Regions from separate parts of the Homo sapiens genome. Here all the other regions are linked to region 4. Evidence: fine-mapped expression QTL. A gene starts in region 4. Each other region holds a variant in brackets. All regions are shown on one strand. Distances are between the middles of the regions.

What was found. PIP is the estimated chance that this variant, and not a neighbour inherited with it, causes the effect. A credible set is the group of variants that fine-mapping cannot tell apart.
Region 1: its variant is the best candidate, but not a certain one, in a credible set for the expression of AK5 in fibroblasts (GTEx, PIP 0.52).
Region 2: its variant is the best candidate, but not a certain one, in a credible set for the expression of AK5 in whole blood (TOPMed, PIP 0.70).
Region 3: its variant is the best candidate, but not a certain one, in a credible set for the expression of AK5 in fibroblasts (GTEx, PIP 0.67).
Region 5: its variant is the best candidate, but not a certain one, in a credible set for the expression of AK5 in cerebral cortex (GTEx, PIP 0.61).

The regions. Positions count from the first base shown.
Region 1 is chr1:77,320,496-77,325,495 of GRCh38, forward strand. The region is part of intron 5 of AK5 (adenylate kinase 5); the gene reads left to right. Among named protein-coding and RNA genes, the nearest start is that of AK5, 41 kb to the left of the region's middle. RefSeq lists an enhancer at 1,749-2,043. The variant G/C (reference allele first, on the strand shown) is at 1,949.
Region 2 is chr1:77,434,694-77,439,804 of GRCh38, forward strand. The region is part of intron 8 of AK5 (adenylate kinase 5); the gene reads left to right. LOC124904202 (a long non-coding RNA gene) reads right to left here and starts at 2,911. Exons shown (of 2, transcript XR_007066178.1): 1 at 2,727-2,911. The variant C/T (reference allele first, on the strand shown) is at 2,563.
Region 3 is chr1:77,350,261-77,355,394 of GRCh38, forward strand. The region is part of intron 6 of AK5 (adenylate kinase 5); the gene reads left to right. Among named protein-coding and RNA genes, the nearest start is that of AK5, 71 kb to the left of the region's middle. The variant T/A (reference allele first, on the strand shown) is at 3,070.
Region 4 is chr1:77,280,130-77,285,263 of GRCh38, forward strand. It overlaps AK5 (adenylate kinase 5), which reads left to right and starts at 1,890. Exons shown (of 14, transcript NM_174858.3): 1 at 1,890-2,244. The coding sequence starts at 2,185. RefSeq lists a silencer at 1,750-1,809.
Region 5 is chr1:77,560,589-77,565,707 of GRCh38, forward strand. ZZZ3 (zinc finger ZZ-type containing 3) reads right to left here. Exons shown (of 15, transcript NM_015534.6): 15 at 1,828-5,119. The coding sequence ends at 5,052. Among named protein-coding and RNA genes, the nearest start is that of ZZZ3, 120 kb to the right of the region's middle. The variant G/A (reference allele first, on the strand shown) is at 2,829.

The sequences.
Region 1 (5,000 bases), 40 kb after region 4:
CTCACCACTTTGGGAGGCTGAGGCAGGTGGGTCACCTGAGGTCAGGAGTTTGGGACCAGCCTGGTCAATATGGTGAAACCCCATCTCTACTAAAAATACAAAAATTAGCCAGGTATGGTGGTGCATGCCTGTAATACCAGCTACTCAGGAAGCTGAGACAGGAGAATTGCTTGAATCCGAGAAGCAGAGATTGCAGTGAGCTGAGATCACGCCATTGCACTCCAGCCTGGGTGTTGACAAGCAAGACTCTGTCTAAAAAAAAGGTATACCATGAAAACACTACACATAAGAAAGCTGGAGTGATGTTACTGACATTAAAGTAGACTTCAGACAGAGTATCACCAGAGACAGAGGAATACTCCATAGTGGTGAATGCATCAATTCATCAGAAAGACATACAATTTATAAATGTGTATATACCTAATAAAAAGTTTCAATATCCATGACTCAAAAATTGATAGAAATAAAGGAAGAAATAGACAAATGCAAACTCATAATTGGAAATGTTAACAATCTTCTCTCAGTATTTAATATTAACAACTAGGCAAAATACCAGTACAGACATAGAAAATCTAAAGAACAATAGACATGTCTAGAACACTGTATCAAACAACTGAATAATGCACAGTGATTTTGAGTGTGTATGGTACATTCACCAAGATAAACCATTTACTAAGCCATTAATACAAGTCTCGGCCGGGCGTGGTGGCTCACTCCTATAATCCCAGCATTTTGGGAGGCTGAGGTGGGCGGATCACCTGAGGTCAGGAGTTTGACAGCAGTCTGGCCAACACGGTGAAACCCCATCTCTACTAAAAATACAAAACAGCCAGGTGCGGTGGTGCCGCCTGTAGTCCCAGCTACTCAGGAAGCTAAGGCAAGAGAATCACTTGAACCCGAGAGGCGTAGGTTGCAGTGAGCTGAGGTCTCGCCACTGCACTGCAGCATGGGCAATAGATAGAGCGAGACTCCGTCTCAAAAAAAAAAAAAGTCTCAGTACATTTTAAAAGCTTGATGTTCTTTTTGATCATAGTAGCAGAAAAAGCATTTGACAACATTGAACATAAGTTCATTAAAAAACCAGCAAATTGGGATTGGAAGGGAATTCTCCTCTAATAGGGAGCATCTACAAAAACCTATATAGCTAACGTCATACTTAATGGTAAAATGTTGAGTGCTGCCCCCTAATATTGGGAATTGTGAGGGTGTCGGCTTTTACCATTTCTATTTAACGTTGTTAAATAGAAGTAGTAAAAATTCTAAATAGTGGTCTGAGAAGTTCTAAATAGTGCTCTGAGACAAGAAAAAGAAACAAAAGGCATAATACAGGAAAGGAAGGACTAATATTGTCTATATTGTTGAAATACATGATTGTTTACAAAGAAAATCCTAAGGAATCTACAAAATGTGTACCAAAACTATTAGTTAAATTTAGCAAGGTCATGGAATACAAGGTCAATTTACTAATCAATTGTATTTCTATATATTAGCAGCAAATTTTTATGTACTATGAAAACAGGGTGAGCCGTGTCTAGCTTATTATTTAACTTTCCATGATGATTATTTCCTAAAATATTGACTGAGAAGAATAATATCTTTATTTTTAAAATAGCATTGTTTGAATACATAGTCATGGGTATTTGTCCAAATACGTGGATGGGATAGAGGGTGATATGCTTGTGTTTGCATCAGAAGAATGAATAGTGACTAATTTACTAATGTGGTGAGTAGCCCTTGATTATAGGATTTAATCTGTTTGTAGTCCTTGGTTCTTTTTTTCTTCTTTTTTTTTCTGTGAGTCATGGCCTAAAGAAATTCTTTCTCTTCATTCTTTAACTAATGGTCTCCATGAGTACATTGATTCATAGAAGAGTAACTCAAGCACAAATTTTACCGGCTACTTTATCTGGCTTCAGGTGACTGGTGGTTCCTCCCTCTGGGGGTTGCT[G/C]AGTCATTGCAGAGGAAAGCAAACCTAGGCAAACAGAAGCATTTTCTCAATCAACTGATGCCAAAAGTACAGCTTTACCATGTGGAGATTCTTGGGATTTTAAAAAAAGCAAAAACAAAGACAAAAAAACTTTAAAAACGGTCTTTGAACTAAAAAAGATTGGTAGCTACTGATCTCATTTTGTAAATGAGAAAATTGAGTCCCAGAGAGATTAAATGACTGGCTGGAATTCACACATCTAGTTAACGTGAGAGCTAAATTACGCACCTTACTGTCTTTTCTCCAGTGCTCTCTCCACCCAACTATACTATCTCCCTAAGCAATAAAAAAGGTCGATCTAGTCTCAAAGGACTGCTGTTTAGATTCAGAAGATCCTGTCTGAAGTTAGATCCCAAAATGCTCTGAGCAGTGGACAACATATTAAAGTGAATTTTTAATTTTCCAAATGCCCTATTTTGTAAGAGAGAATGCATTTAGTTTCACAGAGAATGCATTTAGTTTCACAAGTTCTGCGCTGTTTATTTCAAAATCTTTGTTTTTCTTTTCTTTTTTTTTTTCTTTTGAGACAGAATTTCGCTCTGTCACCCAGGCTGGAGTCCAGTGGCACAATCTCGGCTCATTGCCACCTCCACCTCCCAGGTTCAAGCAGTTCTCCTGCCTCAGCCTCCTCAAGTAGCTGCGACTACAGGCATGCACCACCACGCCCGGCTAATTTTTTTTGTATTTTTAGTAGAGACAGAGTTTCGCCATGTTGGCCGGACTGGTCTCAAATGCCTGACCTCAGGGGATCTGCCTACCTTGGCCTCCCAAAGTGCTGGGATTATAGGTGTGAACCAACGCACCCAGCCTGTTTTTCTTTATAGTCATCTCCTTATAACTGTTTCCCATGCATGTAAAAGAGTTTTTAAATAGCATGTTGTCTGCTTCTTTTCTGCTGAGTAAATAAATTTGCATTTAAGAAAACAATTTTGAATTTATATAGGAGAAACATCTCCTTAAAAGTACCATAAACATTAGAGCAAATTATTAGAGCCAATCATTGATTCTTCTTGTCTGAAAAGTTTTAGGAATTCTTTAATATTATTTTTGTACATATAAACACTCAATATTTACTGAATGAATGATCGAAATGAACGAGCAAATGAATAATTAGAATGAATAATGGTTTAAAATCCCTAGCAGGCCTTTCCATATCTGAACTTCTTTGCTTTCTATTATAATTTAATAATAAGCCTTTTGGAAATTAACTCAAATATATTCCACTTGAACTACCAAATATTCTAATAAATATCATTCTTTAGTCAGTGTGTGTTTATGTATGTGTATGTGTGTGCATACATACACGTGTGTGTAGATAGATATAACACACACACAGAGAAAGAAATAGAGGAGAGAAATATTTGGAAAGGGTTTCCAGTTCAGATTAGTTTCTGTCCAAATCACTCATACATTTCCAAAAATAAGGAAACAATAAAGCACCAAATCAATAATCTAAAAATATCCTGTGAGAATGATTACATTTCAGTGCTCTGGCTCCCTGCTGGAGCAGAAGACCAGGGTGAAAGCAGCTGCTGCTGCTGCTGCAGCCAACAGAGACTCAAAAGTCTGGGTTCAACTCAAGGCACCAGCACAATTTGAAAAGACCCGTTCTTATAATAGCTATTGCCTTGTAGAGCCTTGGCAATCTACCCATTTACTAATGAGAAAGTAGGGTGAAGATTAGCCTGCTGAAAATGCCGAACATTAAGAAATGGCATGAACAATGTTAGGAAATAACTTCTCTGATTTTAATGAAAATGTCTCTTCTGTCCACCACTGCTTTAAAAATTCAATTAATTAAGTGTGGAACATATTAAAAAAAAGTTCACCATTTGCGTGTGTGTGTGTGTGTGTGTGTGTGTGTGTGTGTGTCTTACTCATGGCTATAGAATAAGACTAAAACTAATTTTCGTGTATGCCTATAGAGCCACCTCATTTATGTGTATAAACCAATGGTGGCAAAAAGATTTCATCTTGTGTACCACATTCAAATTGCAACGACTGCCTAACCCAGTATGCTGAGAAGGATTCTGAAGCTGTATCTAAAGTGCAGTGATAATTAGTAATGATGATTCTCTGCTCATCCCAGATATAAACCCACCTGAATGGGGCCACACCCCCCAGGATGTAGACCGCAGAGTTAAACCATTTGAATTCTCATCTCAGATGTTCTAGAAACTCTGAATCTACCAAGACATTTATTAGATCTTTATAGGGAAAAAAAAAAAACCTCTACCCTCCTCCTGGAAGTAGGGTTGTAGTTAAAGGGGCATGAGGCGAGATGGGGAAATTGTTGAACAGAGACTGTTCCTGATTGTCTGAAGGAGACTTGATTTCATGTATTCTGCAGATCGTTTCATTGGGTAGTCTCTCGGCTTAGCTTCCTCTTCTGGATGTGATGGTGGCTACCAGGCCATCAGCCTCTAACTTGAAGCTTGAATTCATCATTCTCTATTACATCAGAGCAATTTAGAGCTGGATGTCAGATTACGAGCTACTTTTTTTTTTGAGACGGAGGCTTGTTCTGTCATCCAGGCTGGAGTGCAGTGGTGCAATCTCGGCTCACTACACTGCAACCTCTGCTTCCTGGGTTCAAGCAATTCTCCTGCCTCAACCTCCTGAGTAGCTGGGATTACAGGCACATGCCACCATGCCTGGCTAATTTTTGTAGGTTTTTTGTTTTTTTTTTTTTTTGTATTTTGTATTTTTTGACGGGGTTTCACCACGTTGGTCAGGCTGGTCTCAAGCTCCTGACCTGGTGATCCGCCCACCTCGGCCTCCCAAAGTGTTGGGATTACAGGCATAAGCCAATGCACCTGACCACCACTTTTTAAATACAAAATGCAACTATTATATTTCTGGTAGTAGTAGAATAAAATCTCACTAATGACTGATAGAAAGGTAATTTGATTATATCATCAGGGTTTCTCACAGACCCATTTTTGCCTGCCAGGACACAACCTTGGATGTAACTCCTTATTTTCTTCCTCTCCCTACACACTTTTACGGGAAA
Region 2 (5,111 bases), 150 kb after region 4:
ATCTTAGGCCAATTACCAAAAGGGGGAAAGAAAGAAAAAGCTTCCTGCAATATAATTGCTTCTTACTGGAAGCCCGTTTAAATAACCTGGAAGTCTAACCTGATGAAAAACTACTTGAATTTAATCAGACACAAGAAGAGTGGGTCCAGTGGTATGAGTTTACATCATATCATAGAAGAAGTAAACAAGAAAACTAGTACCTTGAGCAGAGGAATACATGGCTCTTTAAAAAAGTGAAAACATGAAATTGCCTGGTTAGATGGAACAATTCAAACATATCAAGAAAAACCAAGATTGCAGAATCAAGATATACTGGAGGGGAACATTGCTTTTCTAGGGCTTCAAGACAAACATTTGAGCATCAGGTCATAACAGCAGAGCTTGAAGTAGAGAAAAAAGTTTCAGGAGCTGACGAAAAAGTTGAAGGAGCGAGTTATCAACCTAGCCAAGCAAAAAGATGTATCCTCTCAAGGAGGGACAGGAAGAGCAGAAGGCAGTGTTGTATGACCTCAAATCCTGTGCTGCAAGATACAGCAAAAATTGTACTTCTGAGATATGAATCTGAAAAGCTTCAAGAGGAAAACTTTACCTCAAGAAATGAAATTACCATCCTAAATGAAGAACATAGCACTTTTAATTTGAAACTAGGGAAAGTAAATAGACTGTAAAACAGAGGCTGGGCATGGTGGCTCACGCCTGTAATCCCAGCACTTTGGGAGGCTGAAGCCAGGGGATCACAGGGTGAAGAGACCGAGACCATCGTGGCCTACATGGTGAAACCCCATCTCCATTAAAAATATAAAAATTAGCTTGGCATGGTGGCGTACACCTGCAGTCCCAGCTACTCAGGAGGCTGAGGCAGGAGAATCGTTTGAACCCGGAAGGCAGAAGTTGCAGTGAGCCAAGATGGCGCCAGCACTCCAGCCTGGTGACAGAGCAAGACTCTGTCTCAAAAAAAAAAAAAAAAGAAGCTGCAGTTTAGAAGATGGCTGAAATTTTACAGAATTAAAAATCAAAGACTTTCACAAATTTTACTAAGAGCAGATTAGTACTTCAAGAAAACTCTGTTGTTCTAATATAAGAAACCAAAATCTTAGTTTTATATCTTAGTTGTAAATTAAGTTTTAACTTATAAACTAAGTTATGTATATAATCCTTAATCCTTAGAAAGATATACATAATTCCCTTTTATTTATAGCAAACTTGATTACACACACAAAACTCCTTTTATAAAATTCATCCCTCAAAAACCTTTCACGATCTGCACAGACCTTTGATGGCATGCTTAAGCCGTTAGTTTTGTCCTATACATTCGCTTTTTAAAATAACAAGTCACCTTAGGATAAAAATTTACTTTCCTTGTTCCCTTGTTATTTTGAAAAATTATTCACTTCTAACATTCCATGCCAAAAATACATCTTCACACTTAAAACTTTCTTCACATCTCTGTTTCCTACTTACTGGTTCCTTTCTGTCTTGTTTCTATTTCCTTTCTAAATTCGTATTTTGAAACAATCTTTAAATAACCTCTAAATTAGACAAATTTTTCTTTTTCTCAACAAAGAACATATTTTTATCCCTTTCTTATAACTTCTCCTCCCAAAACACATTTTACATTTATTGGTATGCTTTGTATACAGAATTATATATGTTAATTAAAATTCAAACTCTTAGTAACATTAATTTCTAATGAAAGTGTAGGAAGCAAGAAATTTTGAACTGTTCCATATCAGTATTTTATATATAAGAATGATTTTATAATTTTGGAAACATGTTTCCTCATAATTTTAATGTGTATTAATGAACCCAAATATATTTGTTTTTCTATAAAATTTAAGAAGCCAAGAACAAACTTATATTTGTGTTCAGCAATTTGTTTCAATATTTTATCTTATTTTGAAATGACCCAGATACTTAATGAGTATCTGTTACTTAATTTAACATAACTTTAAAATTTTAAGTTATCAAAAAGATTTTTTGAAACTAAGAAGAATTAATTTATAAATGATTATACCATTTACATTCACCTAATTTGTTTATTTTTAACAATTATAACTATATTACTTATGAAAACTAAGATATTAGACAAGGCTAGTAATTATTTCAGGCTAATTCCTTGTTAGCCGTTTTTACAGGCTGTGACTATTAAGCATTCCTCACCCAACTAAGAACCATAAAGTTAAATACTTCAGTATCTTGCCAATAACTCAGAAAATACAGCTGCTTTCATTAAATCAACAATATTAAATTAGTATTACTTATCAAGGAATTACATAAACAAAGATCGTTCTCTTTTTAGGATGGATTCATAGTTCTATGACATTCATGTCAAACACTGACTCCTTAAAATATATCTAACAAAGATAAATGTAAAACTGCCTGACCAGTAAACTCAGGCACAAATCTTTGCTGACAATTCTTAAGACATTTCTGTTTTTATTTTATCAACAATTTTAAAATCAGTTTACTTATCAAACATTTACCCAAGTCAGGTGAACTTAAAAACTTTGAGGTGGCTATTATGTTTTTGATAACATACTTGATTGAAGTGCTTAATTTTTC[C/T]CTTTAATTAATTAATTAATTAGCTCTTTGATATATTTTGGTAGAAAAATACATACATGCAACATAAAAACATACAGACAACATGAATACATCGAAGCAGATTCTTTAGCTTTCATTTTGAAATGTTAATCATGAGACAGCAAAACATAGTAATTTAAACTTACCAGTTTATAAAAGGACAGTTGAATCCAAATTATATTTCTGACAAAATGGGACCTGTTCACATGGCTAAATTTTATTTGCCCTGATAGGTGATCTTATGAAGGCTGTGGACCAAAGCTTTGGGTAAAGCAGTTTCCACAGCAGTTTGATTTTTAGAAACCTCTTTTTCTCCTTCAAGTTTTAAACTGGTACAGAGGTTAAATATTCAAACATTTTCATTTTAGATAGCACCAACTAAATTGTGTAGAAAAACAAAATACCCCGGTGGCCTTGAATTCCGGCAATAAATTTATCTTTTTATTTGTTTGTCTGATTTACTTGATTAGTCGATGCAGGCAGGAAAGCATTTTAGAAAAAGGTATTTAAAGGGTTTTTTTTTCCCCTCAGCTTTTCCTGGCTCACATACAGCAGACAAAGCAAAATTTTTATGTCAAAGATACCTTCTATTATTCCCCTGAGCTCAAGATTTCGACCTGTTTGATCTGAGAGCCTAACTTTTGTAAACCTTAATCTAGTTCTTTCCTTCTTAGACTATCTAGCTTTTAATTAACTAAAGCAATTGTTAAATCACCCTAAGCAATTGCTAGTCAATCAAAACTAAATTAACATTTCCAAAAGGGATGACTCTTAGGTGTACTGGATAGCTTGTTGGCTGTCATGGAACTACTGTAATTTGAAAGCCCTCTCTTTTTTTGTTATTTTGGCTGAAATGCTCTTTAAAAAACTTGTAAGTAGCTTTGGAAACTAGCAAAATTAGGTTATTTTAATACAAGTGAAAAAGCAGATTCAGAGAAGCAGAGATGGGGAAAAAAAGGAGAAAAAAAGAAGTTGAGAGCCTCTACATACCAGCATTTTGTTTTAACCCTATATTTGGTACAAAAAAAAAAAAAAAAAAAAAAAAAAAAAACAAGCTTGGGGAGTTCAAATAACGCCTAAGATGGCCATTGGTTTAAAAACATGCATGAGGAAAAACCATGTAGCTGGCTGGAGTCCCAGAAAAACTGGCATGCCTTAATGTTTGAGAATCTCGTTTTGTTTCTTATTAATCTCTTGAGAGAAAAGAAATCTATGCATTCTATCAGGGAATGTCAGGAGTTTGGTATTTTAGATAGTGGCTTTTAATTGGCCATCTCACACCTACCACTTTGTATGTTTATTTTTGCTCTGGGAAGATGTTCAAAAGCAAGCAAGAAGAGAAAAAAAGTACAAGATTCAAATTATTTATAGATGTGCATAACCAGACCAAAATGAAACCAAAATTAGAGTGCTCACAAAAATGTTAAGCCAGGCATGCTAATCAACCAAAATATCAAACTAGGCATGCAGACCAAAAGTGAATTCACCAGAAGAGACATGCATCACAAACAAAGTACACGTTCTATAAAAACCAGAGTACTCGAACCAGAAGAACATTGTCCTTAAACCAGAAAGGGCTTGCCAGAAAAGACAAAAGTTTTTATCATTCCAGGGGGAATGCAAGGTCCATTATTAAGGTGGCCTTACAATCAAATCAGATCCCAAATAATGTCCAAAAAACTCACCAAAGGGAGAGAGTCAGAAAATCTGAGAAGAAATTCTCCAGGACCAAAAAGGCGACTCGTAGAAACGAAGAGCACAAAGGGCTCAGGTGATACTGCTCTCCATTTCAGGGGCTGATAATCTATCTAAGGTGAGCTGACTTAGATCTCACTTCTGACACCATTTATATAATCCTAAATAAGAGAGAGAGAGACTCTCTGAAAGAAAATAATATTTATTTGGGAATGTACATTGCCATGGGAATACATTTGCTGTAGTAATCTATGTGCATATTTAGGGAGGCAAAGGAAGCGAACATTTTCTAAAGGAAAAATGAGGAAGATTACATAATTTTTATTGATACATATTGTACATATGGGGAACAGGTGATATTTTGGTGCACGCATACAATGTGTAATGATCAGGTAATTAGGATATCTATCACCTCAAACATTTATCATTTCTTTACATTGGGAACATTACAAATCTAGCCATTTTGAAATACACAATGAATTATTAACTATAGTCACCCTACTTTGCTATCAAAAACTAGAAATTATTCTTTTTATCTAACTGCATTTTTATACCCATTAACCAACCTCTCTTCACCTCCTCTCCCTCATCACTCTTCCTAGCCTCTGGTAACCAACATTTAACTCTCTGCCTCCATGATATTTACTTTTTTAGCCCTTGCATATGAGTCAGAACTGTGATATTTATCTTTTTGTGCCTGGCTTATTTCACTTAACATAATGTCCTCCAGTTCCATCCATATTGCTGCAAATGACAGTATTTATATAAAATTTGGCCATAAAAAAGAATATGTATGTATATACATATATATGTATGTATACATGTATATGTATATA
Region 3 (5,134 bases), 70 kb after region 4:
GATTAGGGAAGGCTTTCCTGGAAACATTGACCCTTGAGAGGCAGGAAGGAGTTGGAACCCAGAAATAGGAAAGAAGGTCATGATAAGCAGACACGTGTAGAACAGAGTAGTGAGAAGTAGAAACCAGGGGACAGAGGTGCTGTCATCAAACTGAGCAAGGCACTGAAGTGCTAGGCTAAGGAGGAAGGGTTTTTCTGTTGGCAAGGGCCACATTGAAAGGCTTGGAGCATGGGAGTGACACAGCTAGAAATATTAAGCTGGTAGCTGTGTGTGAAACAGTGAATGGAGGAAGCATCTGGAAGAGGCGTGACAAGGGCCTGGACTGGAATAGTGACTGACACAAGGTTTTACTTCTCCATATGGCAGATCGGCAACCATCTGGCACGGATGGCAAACATGGGAGTAATTGGAAAAGTTCTCTAAGGGAAAATAGCACTCAAAAATCACCTGCATCATAGGCGTAACATACATTTTCCCAGTTTAACCATTTTGGTTTACCCTTTGGATAGTGTTCATGGCAAGGCTGAAAGGAAAGGAGATAGGGAAGGAAAGGGAATGTAATCAGGACTCTGACAAGCTAAAGCATTATCAAGTGACATTAAAATCCAAGCAAAGGGAGAGTAGAGTCAGTTGAATCACAAATTTTTCTTTCCACTAATAACTGTTTCAAAATAGTTCATTAAGTAAGTTAATGAATTAATTCAATCGTTATACATGGAACCATTTATTTTCATGGCAGACAGCCCTGCACATCTTGCAGCAGTGAGGACATAATTCCATTAAAGCACTGTGCAATAATTGGTCTTCACCAAAAATAAAAGGTTTGTTTCATTACAATAAAAGAATAACTGGGCCGGGCGCGGTGGCTCATGTCTGTAATCCCAACACTTTGGGAGGCTGAAATGGGTGGATTGCTTGAGGCCAGGAATTGAAGACCAGCCTGGGCAACATGGCGAAACCCCATCTCTACCAAAAATACAAAAAATTAGTTGGGCATGGTGGTGCACACCTGCAGTCCCGGCTACTTGGGAAGCTGAGGTGGGAGGATCACTTGAGCCCAGGAGATGGAGGTTGCAATGAGCCATGATTGCAGCACTGCACTCCAGCCTGGGCAACAGAGCAAGACCCTGTCTCTAAATAAATAAATAAATATATGAATAGCTATGGCTTAAATTAACAGGTTTATTTGATGTGTGTAAAAATATGTTCAGAGATGGACGATCTAGGAGTAGTACAATGACTACATGGTGTCATCAAGGACCCAGGCCCCTTCTGTCTTTCTGTTCCAACATCTTTAATGCTTTCTCATAGTGACAAAATCATCCAGTCTACCTTCCACACAGAAAAAAGGTGAGATAGTAAAGGGCTGGGAAGCCACAGCTATTGCCTTTCTTTAGGAAAGCAAAAGCTTTCCCATAAACCCCCTCTCCCTCCCTCATTGACTGGCACCTGTATCTCATTGGTCAGAAGTGGAGCATGTGTTTCCCCTACCTTCAGGGGAGGCTGCAAAACGGAGTTTTTAGCTTTACAACCTCTGATGTAGAAGAAGACAAAGGAGAAAGGAGCTGGAATAAATGAGTGAGCCAACCTACAATAACCACCAAAAGGTTAAAAATAATCCTTTTTTCTGTTTGAAAAGATACGTAAAATACATCTGCAAGTAATTCTTTTTTTTTTTTTTTTCTTGAGATGGAGTTTCGCTCTTGTTGCCCAGGCTGGAGTGCAGTGGTGCAATCTCGGCTCACTGCAACCTCTGCCTTCCGGTTTCAAGCAATTCTCCTGCCTCAGCCTCCCAAGTAGCTGGCATTACAGGTGCCTGCCACCATGCCCGGCTAATTTTTGTATTTTTAGTAGAGACTGGGTTTCACCATGTTGGCCAGGGTGGTCTCGAACTCCTGACCTTGTGATCCGCCCACCTTGGCCTCCCAAAGTGCTGGAATTAAAGGTGTGAGCCACCATGCCCGGCCCATTTGCAAGTAGTTCTATGAAAAATGGTTAAAATAGAAAATGTGCTTAATAATATTAGCTACTTTTCAGTAAGCACTTTCAATATACCAGACTCCTTATTCATCTTATATCTAATTCTTCCAACAGTGTTTTAAAATTAATGAAAGAAACAGAGGCCCAGAGAAGGTCAGGAACATGCCATAAAGCCTGAAGCCAGTAAACAAGGGAGCTGAGGTTTGAAATAGATTCTATGTTAGAGGATCCCTCAGTTAATGACAGGGAATTCAACCAGAACTTATGTCCAAGTAGAGTTAAACACCCCTCTCAAAACAGCCAGAAAATATATTGATAATGCCTGTTAATGTGAACCTGCAGGTTTTTGCTGTTTGAGAAGCAATGATACCTGTTAAAAGGTGAACTGAGGCACAATAAAATTTGAAAGAGTTTATTTGCACAAACAGCGACTGATAAATTGAACAACTCCAAGCTGGAAGTGGTTCAGGAGATCCAACCAGGGAACACCAGGGGAAGGCTTTTCTAGGGCAAACACAGAAGGAAGTGAAGAAAAGAAAACATTTGATTGGTTACTGTTATACAGTTGCCTTATTTGATCTATCTTGCTGGAAAGTCCTTAGTTAAATAAGTTATTTGGCAGCTTCTGATAGGTTAGTCTTAAGTTTCATTTTTTCTTTAATACAGGCATTTACAAGAAGTAGCACAAGTTTGGTTTATGTTTGCAAATTGAGCAAAGTTAAGGTCACTTATGAGACCTAATTGGCTTTATCTTCTCAGAGATTCTTCAAGTCTGGTCTCCATTTTAATTTACCTTTACATACTTAATTATTTTTTTAAAAAAAATAAGAAATTTGTTTCTAAGAGATGTGAAGAACTAACATACTGTATCCAGTGCAGCGCCAACTGATTTACACATTTTTAACTATTTTAATCACTCACCTCTGTCATGTAGGTATTAAAATTATTTAGTGCCAGCCAGGCATGGTGGCTCAAGCCTGTAATCTCAGCACTTTGGGAGGCCAAGGTGGGCGGATTGCCTGAGGTCAGGAGTTCAAGACCAGCCTAGCCAACATGGTAAAATCCTGTCTCTACTAAAAATACAAAAAT[T/A]AGGCAGGCATGGTGTTCCATGCCTGTAATCCCAGCTACTCAGGAGGCTGAGGCAGGAGAATCGCTTGAACCCAGGAGGCGGATGTTGCAGTGAGCCAAAATCGTGCCACTGTACTCCAGCCAGGGCGGTAGAGCAAGACTCCATCTCAAAAAAAGAAAAAAAATTATTTAGTGCCTTGTGTGTGCCAGGTGTTTCTATTTAGATTATCTCATTTCAGGTAAAGATAGGGACTTGCTACCTTTTCTCAGATAAACTCTAAACTGCGCAGTCTTACTCTTGCCTTACCCACTCTGCGTCTCACTCTGACATTACTCCTTGATCCCAGTCTGCCCTGTTTCACCCTTCAGACTCAACTGCTGTTGTCTTCCTCAATATAATGGGCTTCCCTTGTCTGTGTTTTTGCCTCCCACTCAGCTGGCCTCTGGAGGGCCCTTCCCCAGGCACAACTGCAGGATGCTTCCAGCTAGTTTAACCCAACCTGGCAGGTGGGACACAGGCAGGTACACAGACACGCCACTGCTCTGAGGGAGCCCATAGAGAAAAGGGAGGAAAGGAGATCAGTGAGTGGCCTCATTGCATCTGACCATTGTAATGATAGGAGGAAGGATGTACAAAAGGCTGCAGGAGGGAGTAAATTGCACCTGCCTTTCCATGATAACTCTGGTGGGACTGGATGAACTTGACACTCTGGAACAGAGATTATTCCATGCATTCAAGAAGAAATGAGACATCTGAAATTTCTAAGTGGAGTTACAGCCATTACCAAGTTCAGGATTGGAAATGGGAGTAAGTGGTGGGAAAGACAGAATCAAGAGATAAGCAGCCAGGGAAGGAGTAGGGAATAAAATAAATTTTATCTAAACCATTCTAATTTCTTGTTGCTCTCTCCCTGCTCAACAACCCCACTGAGGAATTTAATTTAGCTTAGTATAAAATAATCTACAAATATATTCATTCATCAATTTCTTTTTAGGCAATTATTCTGAGATTTCTAGCTAATGGGGGGGTACTGAAAGATGTATGAAAATGTTGATTTTTGGCTTTAAGAGCTCCTATATGAAGTAAGAAAGCCAACTCTGAATTTAAAGGGATGTCTGTGGAAGGGAAGCTTGAATGTGTGTAAGTTGTAATGTGATGCAGGCTATTCTTTTCAGTAGTCCACTTAGTAGGGACTGTGCAGCCAGCGCAGTGCCAGACTGTAGTGGGTGCTTTGAATTATTTGTTAACTTAATGCATACATTAATGAATTGTACTACATCCGTTCATCCTAATAAGCTGAGAGTGAACAAGAACCTCTTTAGACTTCATTCACTAGGATTGAATAAACAGCTTTTCAGTAATGCTTCAAATTTGAGCTTTCAAAAATTCATGCTTTCCACTGTGGCCTAGTCTCTAACCATTGCCAATTCACAGGTTATTTGAAGGTGTCAGCAACCATGAGAGATTTCTCAGAAAATACCACAGAGTGTTGCTTCAAAGAATTTCCACAATTGCTGTCAAGTTCAGGATCAAGGAGGAAAAATAGAAGTAATAGATTTTTTTGTAAAGAAAAAATCTTGTATCTTACCTGAAAGTTTAATTTCAAAAGATAAATAGTGCTGTGTATTATAAGATATGATTTTTCCTCTATTCTGAAATTTATGCTTAAAAATCTGAATACAGACATCACGATCACTTGATATATACTTGATAATGTTTATTTTTTCGTTTTTTTACCAAAGCTTTATTTAGAGTTCATATGTTCATGACAAATGAATTCTAGCAGAAGCCCAAAAAGATGATATGGTCTCATACAACTGAATGATTAATGCAGCAGTAATTTCCAACTAAATTCTGTCTGTCTCAGAAGATTTTGTAAAGCCTTAGGTGAAATCCTTTTGGCTCAGTGAGCAGTTGCTGCATGACTGCAGCGTACTTGTGATTGCTGGCTCATTTCATCGGTTCAATCTGAATTCTTAAAACAATGAAATCTGATATTAAAAATATCAAGTAGTGCATTTTCTAAAATCCCATGGATAGGTAATTCCACAGTTGTACTGCTCCACTTCATATTCTGTGAAATGA
Region 4 (5,134 bases):
TTCCTTTGCAAAAGTAATTATGAACATCTTCCTCTTTCACGCATCTCTCTCCACCCTGGCACACACCAAAATACACTAATTGTCTCTGCATAAGGCTACTTGAAAACTTGCCGTATCACCATTTACTACATTTTTCAGGCTATCTACAATTTTTAGTGCAGTGCAGTCTTTCTTATCCATTCTCTTTTTACAAGCAAGTTGCCAACACTTGTCCGGTAACACTAAAGTACACTTAGAATTATGCATTTCTTCAAGGGAAGACAGGTGAGCCATGCTCTGCCAGATTCTTGTCTGCAAAGGATGACCTTGAAAAGTCCTGGAGAAACTGGCCTTTTCATTCCTGCGTGTTCACCTCCACTGTGCCTGCTCACAAAGGAAGCCTTAATGCCACGGACCATTGTACTTTTCAAGCATCATTGCATAGGGAAGAGACACTGCCTTCACTACTGCCATAGCCAATCTTAAATAAGCTAAAGAAATACTAGAAGTTGGGACTGTAAGTGAAATGGCATATTCTAAGGGCAAAAACCAATTTCCATGGAACTGAAATACCTGCCTCGTTTAAGGCAACCATATGACACACGGGTTCACAAGTGCTAAAAGTTCATTTACTCCCTCAGGTAAAACAAAGCTGCAGCTGTAGTTAAGGCTTGAGCTGCAGTTGTTTCCGGAACAAGAAATAGAACCAAGAAAAGATCTGCAAAGAAGCACTTGAAATGGACATTCAGACTCTATAGTTTTTTAAAGCAGTGGCAGCGTTGCTTCTTTCTCCAGCCAGACCCCAGATACCAGTGCCTACCAAAGTGTCCTCTCTCACACACCCTCCTACAGTGTTAGGCTTTGTGGGAAGTTAGAGATCATATTCTCCGGGGGCAAGGACTATCTCCCAAATAGGCAATGTGAAGACATCTTAGCAGGGAATTGAGTCATCTTGGGAGCTAGGAGGAAGATGGGTTACACCTTAACAATGGTCTGCAGCAGGAAGATCCATTAACCATTATGCCTTAGCGCACCCACTCATACTCACTCATATTCCCCCAGGGGTGCTCTGATACGACACTGTCCACGGACTGCACACTCTTCAGGTCTAATTAATGATGCCCACCCTCCCCACCTACTAAACACATTTGCAATTTAAGCATCTCTAGCTCTCCACTACCACCCACCTTTCTCCTCCACTGTCCCTTCTTCTCCATGGAGATAATTAACTAGTTGACTACTTATTAGTCCTTCAGTTGATTAGGATTTCAGGCTCACACTAAGGCCTTATCCTAAAGTCTATAAAGATTTGTGACACCGACAGGGTAAAAATTCGAAACCAGCTAGCAAAACTTTCCTGAAGGATAGAGATACTCAAGATCTAAAAATTATCTGAAGGGTTGGATTCCACACCATGAATCCCCTTTTCCCCCTTCCCCACAGCTCCCTATAGTGAAAGATCCGTAACCTTAGGAATAAATGATAAATCCTGTGACTATTAGGTTTTTCCTGGGAGTTCCTCGGAGACCCGGAGGTAACCGTGTATGTGCGTGCGAGTGTGTCTGTGTGCGTACAAGGTCCGGAGAAGCGAAACGGTCGCAGGTTCCTACAGACCCCGACCCTGTTCCCTTGGCCACCTGGTCCCCGGTAGCTGCATCCCTGGGCGGCGCACGCAGTGAAGCGTCGCGCTCTGGCGCCGGTGCCGCACCGAGGGGTATGACTACGACCCCTTGCGCGTGCCCGCCCCCACCTCCGCACCTCGCGCCAGCCCGCGCAGCGTGACCGGCAGCCGCCGCAGACCCGGCTCGGGGAGGCGCGGAGCGCGGCGCGCTGAACCGGAGAGGCGGGCCGGCTGCTGCCTTGCGTTCGCCACGCTGTCCTCCCTCCTCCGCTCCCTGCGCCCCACCCCTGGCGGCCGCGCTGCCTGGCAGCCCGGGAAGCCGCGGCACAGCTGCTCGGCGCCTGCAGCTCCGGCTCGGGGGCTGGAACCGAAGCGGGGGCGGCGGGAGCGCGGAGACCACAGCCCCCGGGGAGAGGCGGAGGGGGTCCCTGGCCTGGGCGGAGAGGCTGAGCTGAGTGCGCGTGAGAAAGAGGGCTGCACCGCTGCTCGGCGCGGACTCTGCCAGCCCCAGCTTCAGCCCCGGCTCAGGTCGCCGCAGCCCGGGAGCCTCCCCGCTTGCGCCCCAAGGCACGCGCGGCACAGCCATGAACACCAACGATGCCAAGGAGTATCTGGCCCGGAGGGAAATCCCTCAGCTTTTTGAGGTAGGGCTAGAGCTGGCCGACGGGCGGTAGCATCCGGGGACTGCATCTCAGGGGTTCGGGTTGAGGCAGCCGCGCCCCGTCCCACCTTCCCCACACGGGGCATGTAATGAAGGGGCTTGTAGAAGCGCACTCGCCCGCTCCCCCGAGGGTAGTCGCCTTTCCCGCGGGTTGCCAGGGTCCTTGTCAGAAGGCTGGGCTTAGAAGCCTGCATCTCACAGATCAAGTTTCAGTCTTCCAGCAGGGTTCTGAAAGCAGCCTGCTCCCATCGCGCCCCTCGGATGTGGACACCCAGGGTGGGCTGCAGACCGCGGCCGGGCCGCACTCTCTGGGGGCGAGGGCCAGGTCAGGTGGCTGCACTGTCGCCCAGCAGCGAGTAAAGACTCGAAACTGAGGGAGCCAGAGCCCTAGTCACTCTGCTGGTCGAGGGTCGGAACCCCTGGGGGAAAGAGGAAATGTGGACGAAGGCAGCCCTTCCTGGAGACAGCTTGGAAGAGAGGGATGAAGATGCAAAAAGCAAAACCCAACCTATCAAGTGCCACCTCCCCGGTGACAGGCCCCCAGCCTTGCTCTGCGCTTTCGCTGAATGAACTCCTGAGCACGTTTTTCCCGTTGCCTAGGAAGGGTTGGGCCGCAGGTTTCGCCAGTGCTCGACAACCCACCTGGAGATAGCGGGTCGGGGAGGGAGCTGCGAGGGGGGCGGACTCCTGTTGCTCAGTCTTCAGACCGCAGCACAGCATCATCTGCACCGGGACCCGGGAATGGGGGGACACTTGGAGACTGAGAGAGAGGAGGCTCGAGGAATGAACCTTGGTCTGTTCTAAGCCACAACCCCTGTCTCAGGTCGTTTGGCTTCCTTTCCTTCTCTTTGTATTTGAATTTAAAAACATTCCTGAATCTCAAGTGCTTTTGCTTGAAGTAGGGGGGAGGAGGAGAAAAGAATAGAAGCAAGCCAGGCTTCCTAAGCGAGCTCTGAAAGGAGAAATCCATTCACTGCAAACCTCGTTCCCCATTTCTGAAAACGGATAGACTGATATCGTAAACTAAAGGTCATGAGGGTTTTTCCCCCCGGTTTGGGGGATTTGTTCTGTTAAAAGGAATTTTAAAGCACCACTTGAGAAAATAATTTTGCCTCAGTTTCCCTAAACTATCTTTAAAATGGGTTGCCATAATTACAGGTCTTCTTTTCTCTCACCTCTATAAGCCACCGTTTTCAGGTCATCTGAAGTCAAGATTTCCAGGTAAACCACTCACTGAACTCAAGCGTGGTATGTGAAGCCCAAATCTAGCAAATGTGTTACTCCTGCGTGAAAATAATTAGGTGGTGTTGCATAAGGACAGGTCTTGAGAATATGTGGGAATCTTAAGAGTTGTTTTTTTTGTTTGTTTTTATTTTCAAAAAGTAAATATGGAAATTAAGAGGCGAAGGTTTTTCTCACAAAGATTACTACTGAGATATATTTCATTTCTACGCTTCTAAAAGAATCATTAAAAACATCTGTAGGAGGACCACGTGATTGCAAAAATTCCTACATAGTACATCTTTTTTTCTTTGTAAATGTGGGTACTGTTTTTCCTCCTTGGTGGAAGGTAACCACAGAGAAGTTTGATAGTTTATTAAAATCTACACTGTGCATGCAAATAAGTTATGGCAGGCCTTTTTGTTAAGGTTTTATGTTTCTTATTTACTTTTCTGCATATGAATGGGATAAATAATGCACACCCAGAAAAGGAAGTCAACTTGCTTGGGTGAAATACAGTAATGGACTTAGATTCACTTGTGGACAATGAGAAGATGGAAGTAGACTGCTGGTGACCTCAAAGGCTACATCCTTCAGTAAGACGAATCTGTGCTATGCGCAGCTCAAGAGGGAAGGAAAATCTGGCAGTTCTCCATGTGATTAGTGTAGACTGTAAAACTAAAAACTTTAGGTTTTTAAAATGGATTTTGCCCACCACAATATTTTAGGTGTACAAAGTTTAACAATTAGCTGTCTACTAAACACCAAGACATTGGCCCCAGCTGTGGATTTTAGACGCTATTACAGACAAACTGACTGATTATTGTATTGACGTATTGTCAGACAAGTAAATATATCTAACTGACCTTTTCAGATTTTTTCCTAATTTGAGACATCATGTAAGCTAAATGGAATATGGGATATCTCTGGTACGTTCATGTTTGAAATGTGTTTCCAGTTTTAGACTTTTTTAAACCCACTTTCTTATTATTTTGTCATGAGTTCTTAATTCTGGCTAACCTTATGGTGTGTATATTGATCTTGTAGCTTACAGCAGAGATTTGGCAATCAATTTGAATACTGTGGAAAGTCAGATTATTCAAGGTCTCAAAGGGTTCACTCAGAGACTGAGCAATAATATGTGCTGGTTGTCTTCAATCCCTGATAGTGGCTGGCTATTAGAAGAAAAGATTTGAATTATCCGTGAAGGAATGGAGCTCATTGTCCCATTTTAAAATCAATGCCCTTTGGTGAACCAGTATTGTTTAAGGACGCTGGAAATGTATATTTTCAGAAAAGAGTCATTGAGAGTGTTCACCCATTTCAGGCAATAGTAGGGATAAAAAGAGGGCATTTTGCAGAGGGCACAGAGAATCTCATGTTTTCTTTTATCTCATATCACGTTTCTGCAACAGGTACAGAGAAGAACATATGGGTTTTGGAATTGGAAACATTGAATTGAAATCCTGGGCCTAGGAGTTTCTAGTTGAGTAAACTAGAGCCATCACTAATATCTCTGAGCCATGATTTCCTAATCTATAAAATGGGGATAATAAAGTCACACAGGGCTGAGAATGCACTGGGTATGCAAATAAATATATGACACAGAGGCTTTTATTTATTAATGAGGCTAATACTGGCTTGGCGTATGG
Region 5 (5,119 bases), 280 kb after region 4:
CCTTGAAAAATTTAGCAAGGGTAAATGGCTTTGCCCCTGAAGAGTATCTAGAAGTGCAAATCAACTCTTCTCTAGAACACATTACTGATTTGAATGGCTTGAAATGATATCACTACTTTAAAGTCATAAGATTTTAATACTGGAAAAGACCTTAGAGGTCTCTGTCTAGCGAAAGACCTGTGTGTATGTAGAAGACATCAGAACACAATCTAAACTCCTTTACAATGATGTGTTTTCAAGGCCACATCTGAGCTGGCTTGTGCCCTCTTCGACGCCATCAACTACTACTCTCCTCTTGCTCATTTGGCTTAAGCTACTCTGGCCATCTTAATGTTGCCAGAACAAGCCACGGTCTACTGGCTCAGGGCCCGTGTGCTACTGCTATCCTTCTGCCCCTTCCTACAGATTATTCATGCAGCAAATTCCCTTGCTCTATTCTGGTTTCTATTTGAATTTACCCTGGCCAATAGAGGATTTCTTTGCTTATTCCATCTAAAATGGCAGACTATTCCCCATTCTCCCATTATTATTTTTCTCTGAGCATTACTTATCTTCAAAGCATTTATCCCTGCCTGAATTGAAGTAATAGTTTTTATTTACTTACTTATTGCTGGTCTTCTGCATTAGATTATAACCTCCATAAGGACACGGCTTGGTATCTCCAGTCCCACACACAGTAATTATTATTGAGAGCTAACATATTTAACATACTCTCTGCACCTCCAGTTTTCTCATGTATACAATGGAGAACATAATAGTAATGAACCTCATAGAGGAACTGAGGATTAAACAAAAGTTAGTAAGACACACGAATCATTTACTAGCTCCTAATGTGCAATGAAAGGTAGTTCTTTGTCAACACTTACTGAGTGCTTCACTTCCACAACTGGGACTAAGACCCAGAATTTTCACTCCAGTGTCCTTTCCATTACCTTGCTTTTTTTTTTTTTTTTTTTTGAGACAGCGTTCTCCCCCAGGCTATTATGCCATGGCACCATCTCGGCTTACTGCAGCCTCAACGTCCCAAGTTCAGGTGATTCCCCCAAACTCAGCCTCCCGAGTAGCTGAGACTACAGCCACGTGCCACCATGCCCATTTGTTTGTATTTTAAGTAAAGACAGGGTTTTGCCATGTTGCCCAGGCTGGTCTCAAACTCCTGGGCTCAAGCAATCTACCTGCCTCGGCTTCCCAAAGTGTTGGGATTACAGACGTGAGCCACCATGCCCAGCCCCATTACACTACTCTTAAAAACATGGAAGAGAATCAAGATACACAGCCTATCTAGGGTCCCACAGAGAACCAAAACCACCTCTGCCACCCAGGGTTGAATCACAGCCTTTGGGTAAGATAGAGTCCAATTCCCCTGTCCTCTCACAGAACTGTCAAGATGACCTTCTGATGCAAGGCCTCTAAGGATCTCACAGACACACTCAATCATAGGTGGTGTCTCTCAAGTTCCTGGAGGAAAAAAATGTAAACTCACCAAAATGTTGGTCATACAACCAACACATATTTATTGAGAATCTATTAAATGCCAGGCCCTAGAGATACAGACAGACATGGATCGTCTCTGTTCTCATGGAGCTAAATGTATTATAACTCTGAAAACTCTAGTTAACTAGCTACATTAACTGTAGAAAAAAAAAGTTGTATCTTTTTTCTGGGATCATATAAATAGAAGAACATTTTTCATCAAGAAATAAAAACAGTTTACAGCCTAAACAGAACAATGTCTTCATAAGCTTGTGGAAAACCCTACTGAAATCTGAAGACTTCCAATCCCATCCAGTGCATCTATAGATGAACAACAGGCTTCAAACTTCAATATCCACAATAAGAAATAGTTTTATATAGCACACAACACATATTTATGATTGAAAAAGACATTTCACAAAACAATATTTATCTTTATTACATGTGATGTACCATTTTCTCTATTCCATTTTTTCAAATGTTCATACCTAGTAAATTTTTGTGTTCTGTGAATCAATTTAAACAAAAAGGGGAAGGGGGGAAAACAGACAAGGCATACTATTAGGTTAAGTGAGAAGCACCCAACATGCATAGAAGAAAATCCTACCCAAGGCAGGAAACACAAGCCTTAGTCCCAGCTTTGCCTGAGACTTTGCAAGCCTGGACATATGCTCAGGTTTGTACTCTTAGGAAGCACACCACATCAGGAAAACAGAATGTAAGGCAACATCTGCACACCTCCACTCCTAACACCTAGTGTTGCCTGACACAAGGGGAAATTCCTGCTCAGGAAACAGGATAGTAAGGCAGACGCTGACTCTGAAGTAATCTGCCTAGGTTAAAATCCAAGCATGACCACTTTACTAACTATACGACCTTGGGCAGGTTAATTAACTTCTCTCTGGCGAGATTTCCTCATATGACAACAGGATAATAAATGACCCTGCCTCATAGAGTTGTTAAGAATTAGTTATCATATGCTTGCTTGGCACATAGTAAACACTGTATCAGTGTTTTCTATTATTATGCATCACACAAAAGGAAACCTCCTCTACCTAAATCTTACAACAATGGTTTTAGATATTAAAAGTTTCTTAAGATGTGCAAATAACTTGAGCACAATATATCAGGAAATAGATCTTATCTACTGAATACCACTGAATAAGCAATGCTTTAGCAAGTAGGTCTTTTACAGTCTGTTTTAGCTTACAGTCCAATAATTCTATGTAGGCAGATGGTAGCCTACCGGCAAATGACAGCTCTGCCCATTATTCCTGCAACTCTCAAATTAAAACAATAACAAAACACTACCTACTACTATCTGAACTTCAGGGCCTTTTAAAGCCATGGGGGCT[G/A]TTTCCTTGGAGCTGAAAAATGCAAAACAAACACATCTTCTGCTCAAGCCGAAAAATCTTCTTAACTCAAAAATCTCAAAAAATGTTTGCCCTAGAAAAATGCATTCAAATGGTTTGTCTATTCCATTTATATAACAATTGTATCACTCATATCCCTCTTCCAAAGCATACATCATACTTTATGGAATTTTTGAATGGATCTGAATGGCTTTCCAAAACTAACTGGTATTATTTCTACACAAACATAGAAGTTACCATCAAGCATTACTATCTTGCCTAATTACAAGTTGAAGGCAGATCTTCTGGCATATTCACAAAACATTTAATATAAAAACGCCCAGAATGCTAATGATTCCCCTCTTCACCCACTAATAATTCCAGGGTGAGAAGTTAAGCTCAAGTCCATTTACTTTCCTTCTGTTATGATATATTATATCTATATCATCAGTGATCTTTAATCAATATATTACTTTAAAATTCTCATATTTCTATATTTAAAATTCTATTACTTTTCTCAATTAAAAAAAATTCAGGGTATGATTTTAGTACCCTGCTATGTACTGAAGAGAACTAGTAAATAATGTTCCCTTGATTTAAAATAGGAAAAAACAGGTGATTCTAAAAATTGGGTCAAATATAACAATCAATCTTAGAATATTTATACTATCTTTTCCTATAGTTAATAGTAATTTCCAGGAAACAAGGTGATTTTTCAAAAGCCATCTGTTTAAATACATGGGGGCTTATCTTCATGAGACACAACTAGAAAAAAAATTTTCAACTTTAGTTTTCACACCTGAGCATTAATAATTGCCTTTTTCTTTAACCATGGTCCGTGTTTCCTTTTTGTAAGCTAGTTTAATTTAGTGTTTCAGCACACACTGAGTAAAAATCTTTACCATTTTTTACAGGGTTGCTTAAGATCACCCTCTTTTCCATAATACATTCCTTATTCTTCATAAATGACAGAAAGAAAACTCTTAAATATGTGAAGCAAACCATTTTAAAAAATACCAATTTCTGGTTTTAACACTGGTAAAAAAAAAAATCCAAAATCTAACCAAAAGGAAGTCACAACAAGCATTCTATAATATAAACAGACAGTATCCACATAGTTTATTTCTCACAGTTCTCCTGACAAATGAACATCATTCAAGAACATACTGTATACACAGATAAGAAGAAACATACAAAATGTTTTAAATGATGCACAACAAAATCCAGCAGTATAAAAGAATGCATGTGAACCCTTGCTCACTGTGCAGACTAAATTTAATCACTTGTTTAAATAGTAATAAAAATACAATCTTTTATGGATCTTGTGCAGACTACAAAAGAGGGAAATTATTACCATATATATGATTTTTATATTAGGCAGTTTTCTTTGATGAGTTGTACTGACAACTCCAAATACAGAGGCAGAAGGCTGTGTATTTTAAAGGAATTAATGTTGTGAATTAGAAACTTTACACAGTTACTACCACTGGCACTTTTCACCATAGTTTGTACACATCACATGATCATCTTATATAACATTACATTTAAAAAATATATCTGAGTGACAATTTTATAACATTCACACACCATGAGCTGGTTAAGGAAGCAATGCCACAGTTGCCTCCTGTAGTGCTTCACTGTTGGTAATTAAGGACAATTCATTGTGGTTAAAAGAAATTAGATATCAATATGATTAAGCAGCTCCAATTTACTAAAGGCCATCAATGACCACCACTGGGACAGTGAGTTCTTTTAAAGTGTATATCCTAGAAGCAAACACCATCATTGGTTAAAACTTTGTCTAAAGAAGTCAGTTTCTGTGCTGAAAACTATTTTCACAAAACTGAAGGCTACTAAACTGTTTTAATATAAATACTTTGTCTTCTCATTATCATATTTATGACCAAGTTCTTTGAAACCTTTGGAATTTACTCTCTCTTTAATGTGTGCTCTCGTTCCATCTCACCCATTTAAGATCACCACCTAAAACGCAGTGGTGAAAAATTCACCAGGGAAACCTTTGCTCACCAGGAATGTTCAGCTGCTGAACAGTGATCTAGAGCCACAACGGTGCAGAGCTGTACTTGACGAGAACACTCAGGAAGCTCTCATGCTGTGAGTGTCATTTCTGGGAAAGCAGAGAATCTTTCCAAACTGTGCACATAATTAACAATGATACCATTGCTATGTGTTGAAGAGGACTAGTAAATGATGTTCTCTTCCATGTCATCTGTTTGCTGGAAAGTAGTTTGGGTCAAGGTAATTGTAACTGGTGCCCTGAGACACACAGTAGT